Regions from separate parts of the Homo sapiens genome. Here region 1 is linked to region 2. Evidence: fine-mapped QTL for protein levels in blood plasma. Region 2 holds a variant in brackets. A gene starts in the other region. All regions are shown on their reverse strands.

Evidence for each region. PIP is the chance, under the fine-mapping model, that this variant and not a neighbour inherited with it causes the effect. The UK Biobank Pharma Proteomics Project read protein levels with antibody pairs (Olink). The fine-mapping took linkage between variants from a reference panel, not from the people measured, so its PIPs are less certain.
Region 1: FCRL5 starts here. The variant in region 2 is fine-mapped to the plasma level of the FCRL5 protein (UK Biobank, PIP above 0.99).

Annotation. Positions count from the first base shown.
Region 1 is chr1:157,549,482-157,554,862 of GRCh38, reverse strand. FCRL5 (Fc receptor like 5) reads left to right here and starts at 2,348. Exons shown (of 17, transcript NM_031281.3): 1 at 2,348-2,531; 2 at 5,283-5,303. The coding sequence starts at 2,501.
Region 2 is chr17:16,937,103-16,942,483 of GRCh38, reverse strand. It overlaps TNFRSF13B (TNF receptor superfamily member 13B), which reads left to right. Exons shown (of 5, transcript NM_012452.3): 4 at 1,973-2,158; 5 at 2,687-3,403. The coding sequence ends at 2,937. Among named protein-coding and RNA genes, the nearest start is that of TNFRSF13B, 32 kb to the left of the region's middle. RefSeq lists silencers at 3,271-3,320, 3,331-3,380 and enhancers at 3,166-4,006, 4,804-5,304. The variant C/T (reference allele first, on the strand shown) is at 2,807.

The DNA of each region.
Region 1 (5,381 bases), not on the chromosome of region 2:
GAGCCAAGATCGCACCAGTGCACTCCAGCCTGGGGGACAAGAGCAAAACTCTGTCTCAAAAAAATAAAAATAATGGTCAGTAAAACAAAAAAGTATTATATTTCTATATACCAATATACATTTAGAAAAAAATCTAATGATGTCACTTACAATATCATAAAAAACATATCAATAACCTAAGGATAAACCTACCAAAAGATATACTTTCCAGAGGCAAAGCTATAGAAAATTACTGAAAGAATGTCAAGTTAACCTAAATAAATGAGGGGATATTGTATGTTTATGGATTGGGAGACTAAATCTTTTCTAATTTATACAAATTAACTTATAAATCCAATGCAATCCCAGTTATTAAAAATCTACTAGGCTTTTGGGGAGAGAGGGGACAGGAATTGACAAGGTGATTTTTAAATGTATAGAAAAATTCAAAAAGCCAAAAATAGCCATAACAATTTTGAAGAAGAACAGCATTTTATGACTTAAACTATCAGTTAATAAGAGTTATTATAAAGCCACAATAATTAGAAGAGTGTGGTATTGGCATGAGGATAGACAAAATAGACTAATGGACAAGAAAGGAGTTTCCAAAAATAGACCTACATGGCTTTTTGTTTTATAACAAAGGTGAAATTGCACTGTACTGTGGAAAAAATCAACTTTCAATAAATAGGGCAGGATAAATTATCTGTATTTAAGTTAAAAGTGAATATAAACACTCAAACTGTACACAAAAATCAATTGCAATGCTCTTATAAATATAAAATAAATGGTAAAAAATAAAGTTTCTAGAAGATAACCTGGGAGAGTATCTTTATGATCTTGGAGTAGACTAACTTTCTTAGAAGGGATGCAAAAATCTCTAACCACAAAGGAGAAGACTGATAAACTGGACTATGTCAAAGTTAGAATGGTTGTTCATCAAAAGGCACTATCAATGAGCAAAGAAGCAAGCCACAGATTGAAGGAAGACATTTGCAATACATATATCCAACAAAAGGTTTATATTCAGGGTTTAAAATAACTACAAAACAGGAAAAGAAAGACTGAAAGTTAAGAGAAAAATGAGGAAATATTTGAACAGAGATTGCACATAAAAAGGATATCTACATCACCAATTAGACTATGAAAAAATGCTCATTCTCAAATTCACCAGAGACATACAAATTAAAACCACATTGAGATAATTCTAGCAGAACGGCCAGATTTTACTAGATGACAATACCAATATCAGCAAGAATTTTAGAACAATGATAACTCTCATACATTGGTTGGTGGGTGTGGTGGGAATTGGCACAACCACTTTGGAAAATAATTTGGTAATACTTCCTAAACTGAATATATGCATACCTTATGAGCCAGGACTTCCACTCCCAGATATATACCCAACAGAATTATGTGCGCATATGCCCCAATAAATGTATACAAGAATGTTCATAGCAGCACTATTTGTTTTAGCACCAAAAGTAGGTAAAGATTCTGTGTTCCCTTTGAAGTTCTCCTCTTAATCTCTATTCACCCCTGTAACCCCTGTATGGTTTTCTTGCCTCAGGGTGCAGTGGGTCAGATGTGACATAATATACCTAAGGTGATGTGCATTTGTAGATATAAAATTAAATGCCCCCTTAGGAAGACCAAGGTATGGGCCCAGAGAGAAAGGGTGAGAAAATATTTGAAAGAAAGAAACTGGCACTCCTCGTGGCAGCTAATGTCTTAGGAACCTCTGTTGACCAGTATACCAGGATGGAAACTTGACTTTTAGAAAATCATAAGAGCTATACATTCACCTGGTAATTTTTTAAAAAATCAAACGGTACAGAAATACATAAAATAAATTGTGTTCTTCCCACCTATTGCTCCTCAAACATAATCAATATTTTTGTGTGTACTTTCCAGGAAAAGAAGAAAGTATACTTAAAAGAGTTGATGTACACATATATCCTATTTTTTATATTTACCCAATGGGATAATACTACAAAACCAATCTATATCTCACTTTTATTCTCTTCACATCAAACAAGGTGGTCTTCCCTTCTTGGCATGTTCAGATTTACCTTATTCTTTAATGATTGCTTGTCACCATACGGATGAATCAGAATATTCTTAAACAGTCCCCATATCATGGTTTTTTGTTTTGTTTCCAGTGTTTAGGCAATAATGAATGCTACAATAAACGTTCTTATAGTACTCTCTTCAGATACTTCCTTCAGGGTAATTTCCCAATAGCAAAAATGTAGGGTCAAGGGTATTTGATTTTTTAAAACCTTAACTTTTTTTTTTCTTTGATCATCGGGTAGGAAACTGTGATTAGCAGCTGAAGACGGGTACTCCCACTTCCTTTTTTCAATTCACTAATGCATTCTGCTCTTTTTGAGAGCACAGCTTCTCAGATGTGCTCCTTGGAGCTGGTGTGCAGTGTCCTGACTGTAAGATCAAGTCCAAACCTGTTTTGGAATTGAGGAAACTTCTCTTTTGATCTCAGCCCTTGGTGGTCCAGGTCTTCATGCTGCTGTGGGTGATATTACTGGTCCTGGGTGAGTAAAAGGGCTCACCATGGGCCCTGGGTGGGATCGGGACAGCTTCTCTCTCCACCGCAGGCCTGGTCCTTTCTTGGGGCTCAGCCCCTGCTGAGAGACTCTCTCCTACATTAGGAGACTGTATTTTTGAACTTTACTCTGTAGCTCAGGGCTTTCTCTTGAGGCTGAAGAAAATGGCCACAGCTGGAAGGAATTTTCAATCTTACAGAGTAGGAAACCACAATAACCACAACAATTAAAATTTCATTTATTTTTTTCTTTAAAAAGTACTTCTTAAAGTCCAGAGAATGTTTCATGTTTGTTTGTTCATATTGTCTTACTCATAGAAGAGCCCACTCTCCTCTCTGCAGAGGAGATGTATTTATTCCTTGTATGACAAGGCCAGATCCTGGTCCCCAGCATAAGAGGCAAGGTTTCTAACGGGAAAGACAGGTCTTTCTCTTGTACATAATTGCAAACCACTGCAGCAATTGGCTGATTAAGAACATGGGGTGGAGGAGGTCGCAGAGGCGTAGGTGGACAAAGCAAGGATAAATCTAAAGCATATGACTTTCTCTTTGTCCCTGTGGGTGTACGTAAGTCTCTATCAACTCATATGTGCGAACTGGTTGATTTTTACTAAAGGTTAAATATTATAATTAAATATGTTTATTTATTTGTTCAGCAAATGTGTTTAGTAATATCTATGCACAGGTGCTGAGCAATTAGAGTCCATAGGAGACACTACGTCTATGTTCTGGAAAGTCATGACATAGAAGGGCTCCCAGCAAGGCCAATGTACTTTCAAGCAGCTATGCAACAAGCTCCCAGTTAAATAATTGTCCAGGCAAAGTTACCAATGAATGCTGTAGGCAGATAATAAACTGTATTCAAAATAGCTAGTAAAGACTTCATGAAACTTAGAGGTGAGTAGGAGCTAGAGGAGCAGAAATGGAGCAGGCGTGATATAAGAAAAGAGGACCTCACAGTTGGAAGGTGCATGGACTATAATTCCTGAAGTAGGAATACATCTCAGTGTGGCCCCACACAATGTGGGTAATGGCCAGGTCCTGAGCATGAGAGGGCAAAGTTTATAACATGGGCTCTGGGGTCAAACAGGATCTAGGTTCAAACTTCATCTTGCCACCTACTGGCTACCAGATTCCTGGTCTACAAAATGCAGTTAATCCTAGTGCTTACCTCACAGGATTATTGACATGGTTATATGAAATAACCTACGTAAATGCAGACCATATAGAAACCACTCACAAAAATATTAGCTTCATTTAAAACAATGCAAAGATGAAGGAAGCCAAAATATTCAGGTGAATGGTGAATAATTTGTTGTTCTCAGTAAAACACTTAAGTTTGGATAAGTCTCCAATAGCCTCATGTGGACAGGGATGATTTGTCTCTCACACACTCCTGGATTTCTATTGCCTTGCTCTGGAGTATGATTGGCATTCCAAAAATCTGTTGAATAAATAAATCAACCCATATGCAGAATACCTACTCAATTGATAAACCTGCCAGTTTTGTGTCCTCTCTCTCTTCATTACCCATTTCTCAAATCTCTATCCTTCTATTCCTATATTATTAACCTAGTTCTTTAATTAATTCATTATACAACACAAATATATTTAGTGAACATTAAAGGAATATCTTTTATATGCCATTCACCGTTATAGGTCCTGGAGGATATATGGTGAACATAAGGAAAGTCCTAGGTCTCATAGAGCTTGCATTATAGAGAAGGGAAAATAAACAAGCAGATAATGAAGATAATTTGGATAAATACTCTGACAAAAATTACACATTACCATCTCTTGGGCTGAGCATCAGGTCTAAATAATCTGAGCATCAGTTGATTGTTTAAAAATTAGGCATGATGATAATGAGCCCTTGGATTCAATGATCTCATGAAAAGAGTATAGCCTGGAGTCTGGTGCCCAAGGGAGGCTTAATTCATGTCCATTTCCTTGCCCTGCCTTCTAATCAGTCTCCCTGCTTCATATTGTCCCATTAAATTCTGTCCACTGACAGAGTGCTCCATCAAAGTCTGAAATTCTAACCTTGTCAATCTCCTCCTTGAAACCATTCCATGACTCCTTATCACTTTTATAATAAAATTAGAACCACTTACTCAGGCCCTGCATGCTTCTCTGGTCTTATTTCCCCCAACACTCCCAGTTCCTGAGCACCAATGTCATTTCTCCACTTCTGTGCCCTTTCTACCTTGAAAGGTAGAAATCGCCTCTTACCACACACAAATGCTAACATCCACCTGCAGACTCATGTTCTCACTCACAGTTTTGTGAAGTATCATCTCCTTCAGGTACCTTCAAGGATCCACCCATCCTGTTCAACACATGTACACACAAACACACACTCTACACACACACATATATCCTACACACTGGGCTAGTGGCCCTTCTGCCCCCAACATACCCCATGTGTATTTCTGTTATTGCACTTACACCCTGTGTTATATTATTTTAAATCGTGTTTCTGTTTTTCCACTAGTCAACTTCTTGATGGCAGATACCATTTTTAAAATTCATTGTAGAAGTCCAAATACCATGCCATATATATATGTATATATATGTATATTTATGTGTATATATATACATTTGATGAATAATTATTAGAGTTTTTAAATGAATTTTTTAAAGGGACAAGTAATACATGCATGGGTAAAAAAGGGAATTATCTTCTTAAAACAAAATAATCATGGTTCTGTGCTCATCTCTGGCTCTTATTTTTTTGCAGCTCCTGTCAGTGGACAGTTTGGTGAGTTCTCCTGTCTTTGGCTCTTCAGCGTCTCTGGTTAAGAGTGTCTCTTCCTAATAAATAGAAAACATTTGTGAT
Region 2 (5,381 bases):
CTGGCGGAGTGACACGAACTCACCCCAAGTTCCCATCTCCCCCCTGTAAATGTCAGAGTGACACTGATGACCCCTAAGAGTCCTGGCAGCTCTGTCACTTTATGAGATTCCTGAATCTAAAAGCGTGTGTGAGGAAGACGGGCAGTGCCAGCCCTGGGGCCGCTGTGTGGCCCGCGGGCTTGGAGCACCGGCCTGGGAATTGGTGAGACCGGCTCCCGGGTGCAGGTCTAAGACCGAGAACAATATCTTAGACACTCAGTTTTGTCATCTGTAAAATGGAGTGTGAACGGCAGATGCTGTGCAACGCAGTCCAGCAGGTCCTCAAAAAACAAAACAGAGCTATTATGTGACCCAGCCATTCTTCTCCTAGGTATACACCCAAGAAAATGGAAAACATCCATCCACACAAACATGTGGATGTGAATGTTCACAGCAACGTCATTCACAATAGCCAGAAAGTGGAAGCAACCCAAATGCCCATTCCCTGTTGAATGCGTAAACAGATGTGGTCTGTCCATTCCGCCTAAAGAGAAACGAAGGTCTAATACACAGCACGGCAGGACATGGTGGACCTTGAAAACTCAAAGCCAAGTGCAAGGAGCCAGGCATAAAAGACCACGTGTTGTATGATTTCATTAATATGAAATGTCTGGAATAGGCAAATCCACAGAGACAGAAAAGAGATGAACAGTTGCCAGGGGCTGGGAAGAGGGAATGGGGAGTGACTGCTGATGAGACAGGGTTTCTGTTTGGTGATAAAAATTGTCTCCAATTAGACAGTTGCCATTGCTGCACAACCTTGTGATGTGCTAAAAGCCACTGGTTGTACACTTTAATACAGCAAATTTGATGGTATACAAATTCTCAGTATTTTTAATGGGGGTAGTTGTCTGCCATCAGAGCGGGAAGATGAAGGGGGTGCTGTAGGGGAAGTGCCCGGCACGAAGTGGGACTCGCTCTTCTTGACGTGTCATCTTAAATCTGGCTCATCTGTCTTTCCACCCAGCGCCTAGAGGATGCCCAGCTCCAGGGACAAGGAAGAGCTTTTGGGATAAGGAGAACTTCCAAGGGGAGGGCTTTCACCTGGGCTGAGTCTGTCTCTGGCATCCAAACCTGGAGGCACAAGTCCTGAGTCATAGGGTGGCCAGGTGCCCTGATGCCCAAAGCCCTCCTGGTTGGCACCTGCTGTCCTGGTCTCAGTGTAACGTCGCCTGTCCTACTCTCAAACACAGTGGGCCCTCTGTGTCGTGCGACCCATGTCTGTGGATTCAACCAACAGCAGCTGGAAAATACTCAGAAAAGATAGGGGATAGTTGCATCTGTACTGAACCTCTGCAGCCATTTTTTCTCATTGTTATCCCTAAACAATACAGTATAACACCCTTCTACATGGCATCTATATTGTATTTGGTATTATAAGTAATCTAGAGATGACTCTAATTGTATAGGAGGATGTGCATAGGTTATATGCAAATGCCAGGCCGTCTTGTATCAGGCACTTGGACATCCGCGGATTTTGGTATCTGTAGGGGATCCTGGAACCAGTCCCCCATGGATACCAAGGGACGACTGTAAACGCTCACTCAGGAAGCTTTCTCCTTGGAGGAAGGGCCCAGTTCAGGATGCACAGAGACATGCTCCCTGGAGCATCGTCTGTTCGTCTGTCGATTCACCCATCAGCCCATCTCCAGCGCTGTCCCAATTACAGCCCTAGCAAGTGGAGACAACAAGAAGGCCTAGCTCACGTTTCCAGCTTTGAGGCCTTAGAAAGTTGCTGCCAGGATGGGGGAGTGGATCAACTTCCTCCAGGATCCAGAGAGCATCCCAGCAGCCTCAGGGTCAGAAAAGGAGCCCAGCCTCTCCAGGAGCCAGACAGGCTCACAGCAGGGGGATGGGGGGATGTGGATTGCTTGAGCCTAATGACGGGAAGAGAAGAAGGCACTGCAGAGAGGGGTCTCATGCTGTCTTGCAGCTCTCCCGGGGCTGAAGCTGAGTGCAGATCAGGTGGCCCTGGTCTACAGCACGCTGGGGCTCTGCCTGTGTGCCGTCCTCTGCTGCTTCCTGGTGGCGGTGGCCTGCTTCCTCAAGAAGAGGGGGGATCCCTGCTCCTGCCAGCCCCGCTCAAGGCCCCGTCAAAGTCCGGCCAAGTCTTCCCAGGGTGAGTGCATGAAACTGGGGTCCTCGCCCTTCTCGCTGCTTGGGTGACAAGCCTCGGGCCATCCCTCGGTCCTGTCACTGCCCCTGCTTCTAGGTGGAGAGGCCCAGGGCTCATCCCTGTTACTTGCTATACCTTGATAAAATCAGGTTAAGACATCCTGGCAGACAGATAACTGGGAGAGTGGCACCCGGGAAGGGTGGGTGTGGGGTGCCGGTCTTCAGGTTTGCCTGGGCCCAGGATTCTCCAGATGCAGAGCCTTCAGGGCTAAGCCCAGGAGGAGGTGTCCCCTTGGGGGGCGTGGCAGGCTCGGTGCTGGACAGAAGTGAGAGCCAAGAATTGCCTGCCCACCCCTGCCCCGGCACAGGTTCTGGTCAGCAACTGGCGGACACTGACACCTGTCTGGGGGCGTTCTACGCTGGTGATTGCCCTTAGCTCCTGGGTCGGGGGAGAGTGCGGCTGCCCACACCGTCACCCCTACCCTAGTGCAGGGCCAGGCCTGGCCCACGCCCTCCACTCTCGCCTCTGCAGATCACGCGATGGAAGCCGGCAGCCCTGTGAGCACATCCCCCGAGCCAGTGGAGACCTGCAGCTTCTGCTTCCCTGAGTGCAGGGCGCCCACGCAGGAGAGCGCAGTCACGCCTGGGACCC[C/T]CGACCCCACTTGTGCTGGAAGGTGGGGGTGCCACACCAGGACCACAGTCCTGCAGCCTTGCCCACACATCCCAGACAGTGGCCTTGGCATTGTGTGTGTGCCTGCCCAGGAGGGGGGCCCAGGTGCATAAATGGGGGTCAGGGAGGGAAAGGAGGAGGGAGAGAGATGGAGAGGAGGGGAGAGAGAAAGAGAGGTGGGGAGAGGGGAGAGAGATATGAGGAGAGAGAGACAGAGGAGGCAGAGAGGGAGAGAAACAGAGGAGACAGAGAGGGAGAGAGAGACAGAGGGAGAGAGAGACAGAGGGGAAGAGAGGCAGAGAGGGAAAGAGGCAGAGAAGGAAAGAGACAGGCAGAGAAGGAGAGAGGCAGAGAGGGAGAGAGGCAGAGAGGGAGAGAGGCAGAGAGACAGAGAGGGAGAGAGGGACAGAGAGAGATAGAGCAGGAGGTCGGGGCACTCTGAGTCCCAGTTCCCAGTGCAGCTGTAGGTCGTCATCACCTAACCACACGTGCAATAAAGTCCTCGTGCCTGCTGCTCACAGCCCCCGAGAGCCCCTCCTCCTGGAGAATAAAACCTTTGGCAGCTGCCCTTCCTCACTGCATTGTGGTTGGGTCTTTGATGAACTGAGACATCTTGTCTATCACTTTCCTGGGCATCAGGCTCCACTGAACGCTGCCCCCTTGGTTTGGGAGGCCCTGTGGTGCCCCCATCTCACCAGGCTCTCGAGGAAGCTTGTGACCTTGGGTTGAGCCCTAAGCAGCCGGGTACCCACTGGGGCTCTGCTTCTCTCTTTCACTAAGAGAGAGAAAGAGACCAAAGAAAGGTCTGCAGGGAGGGTGCCTGTGCAAACACCCAGGGAACCAGGGGCTTGAGCCATCTTCATTTCCTTACAGACACACATTCCCTTCCATGCCTCCTTAGTAAGGGCATGACGCACAGTGTGTGTGTGTGTGTGTGTGTGTGTGTGTGCAGGTGTGTGCATGCATATGTGTGTGCATGTATGCGTGTGCATGTACGTATATGTGTGTGCGTGTGGATGTCTGTGCATGTATGTATGTATATGTGTGTGTGTTGTGGGGATGTGCAGTGGACAGGAAGGGGAGGGCAGCTGTAGCTGAAAGCTGCGAGTCTCTCTGGAAAAAACATCAAGATTCCCTGGACCACAGCAAGAGAATGTTTTCATTTGAGTCCACTTTTTGTTAGCATTTAAAGCTATATCTTGAGTAGCATGTAAACCTTAAGTAAACTATTCTTAGAAGCATTTTCACAGTAAGATAAATCCATAATAATGTACATTGAAATTATGCACCCTGCACCTCCTAAAATTATCTTGCAAACCTGCACCCACCAAAGGATCCCGTAGCGCACTTTGGGAGGTGTAGACAGGAAGCCTGGGGCTCCGTCGCTCATTCCATCTTTTCACCAGCTGTGGGCTACCACGCTGCATTGGTTTGCTTGGGCTTCCTTAAAGTACCACAGACTGGGCAGCTTCAGCAACAGAATCTCACTGTCTCACAGTCCTGCAGGCTGTAGGTCCAAGATCAAGGTGTCGGCAGGGAAGGTCCCTTTTCAGGGCGGTGCGGGAAGGCTCTGTTCCAGGCCTCTCTCCTGGCAGGTAGGTGGCCTTCCCGGTGTCTCTTCACCTCGTCTTCCCTCTGTGTGTCTCTGTCCACATTTCCTTTTCTTATAATAACGACACCAGTAGTTAGATTGGGGGCCCCCCTACTGACCTCATTTTTCATTTTAACTTATTTCTATAAGATGATATCTGTAAATAAGATCACATTCTCAAGCACTGGGGCTTAGGACATCAACACAGGAATTTCGGGGGACAAATTCAACCCATCACACAGGCCGTCCTCGAGGCCACCTCTGCGTCATCTTTGTCTACAGGCAAGTTGGCATCTAAAAAGTGTCTGCCCAAGACATGCGTCTGGCCCATGGTACAGCCAGTCCACACGGCCAATGGTGAGATCCGGGTGGCATTGTTTCCTCACCGCCATGCCTCACGCAAGCAGCTGCCTTCTTACAACAAGGTGGACACAAATCCCAGAACTGGCGCAGACGCTTGCTGGCTGTGGGTGAAGTAGCCCCACGTCAGCGTCCTGCAAATATGCGGCTTAGAATGTTACGGCTTGTGTGAAAGATATGCAGATTTCTATTCCTTCCGATCCATGGTTTCAAGTTCTGCTCGTCTGAACCCAAGGGGCTCTGTAGGTGCCTCTGGAACAGCCGGGGTTTTAGGGGTGTTGAAAACACAAGGTACCCAGGCTCAACCCCAGCTTCAATCACACAAATAATCTTGTGGTGGTGTTTCTTTGGTCAGTTTTTAAAATTGATCTTTTGTACTCTTTTTTTTTTTTAGAAAGGGATCCTTTGGTAGAAAGAAAATCTGAAACTCTAAATACTGTCCATTTTATCTATGTATTGTTGGTCCTTTCCCCAAAATATATCCTGATTCCAGCCACTTGTCATGATAGTTTTAATCTGAGCTCTCATCGTTTTTCACCTGGATTACTGTACCAGCCTCCCCACTGGCCTCCCCGCTGCCACCTGGCCCCTCCCCAGGGCTCAGCA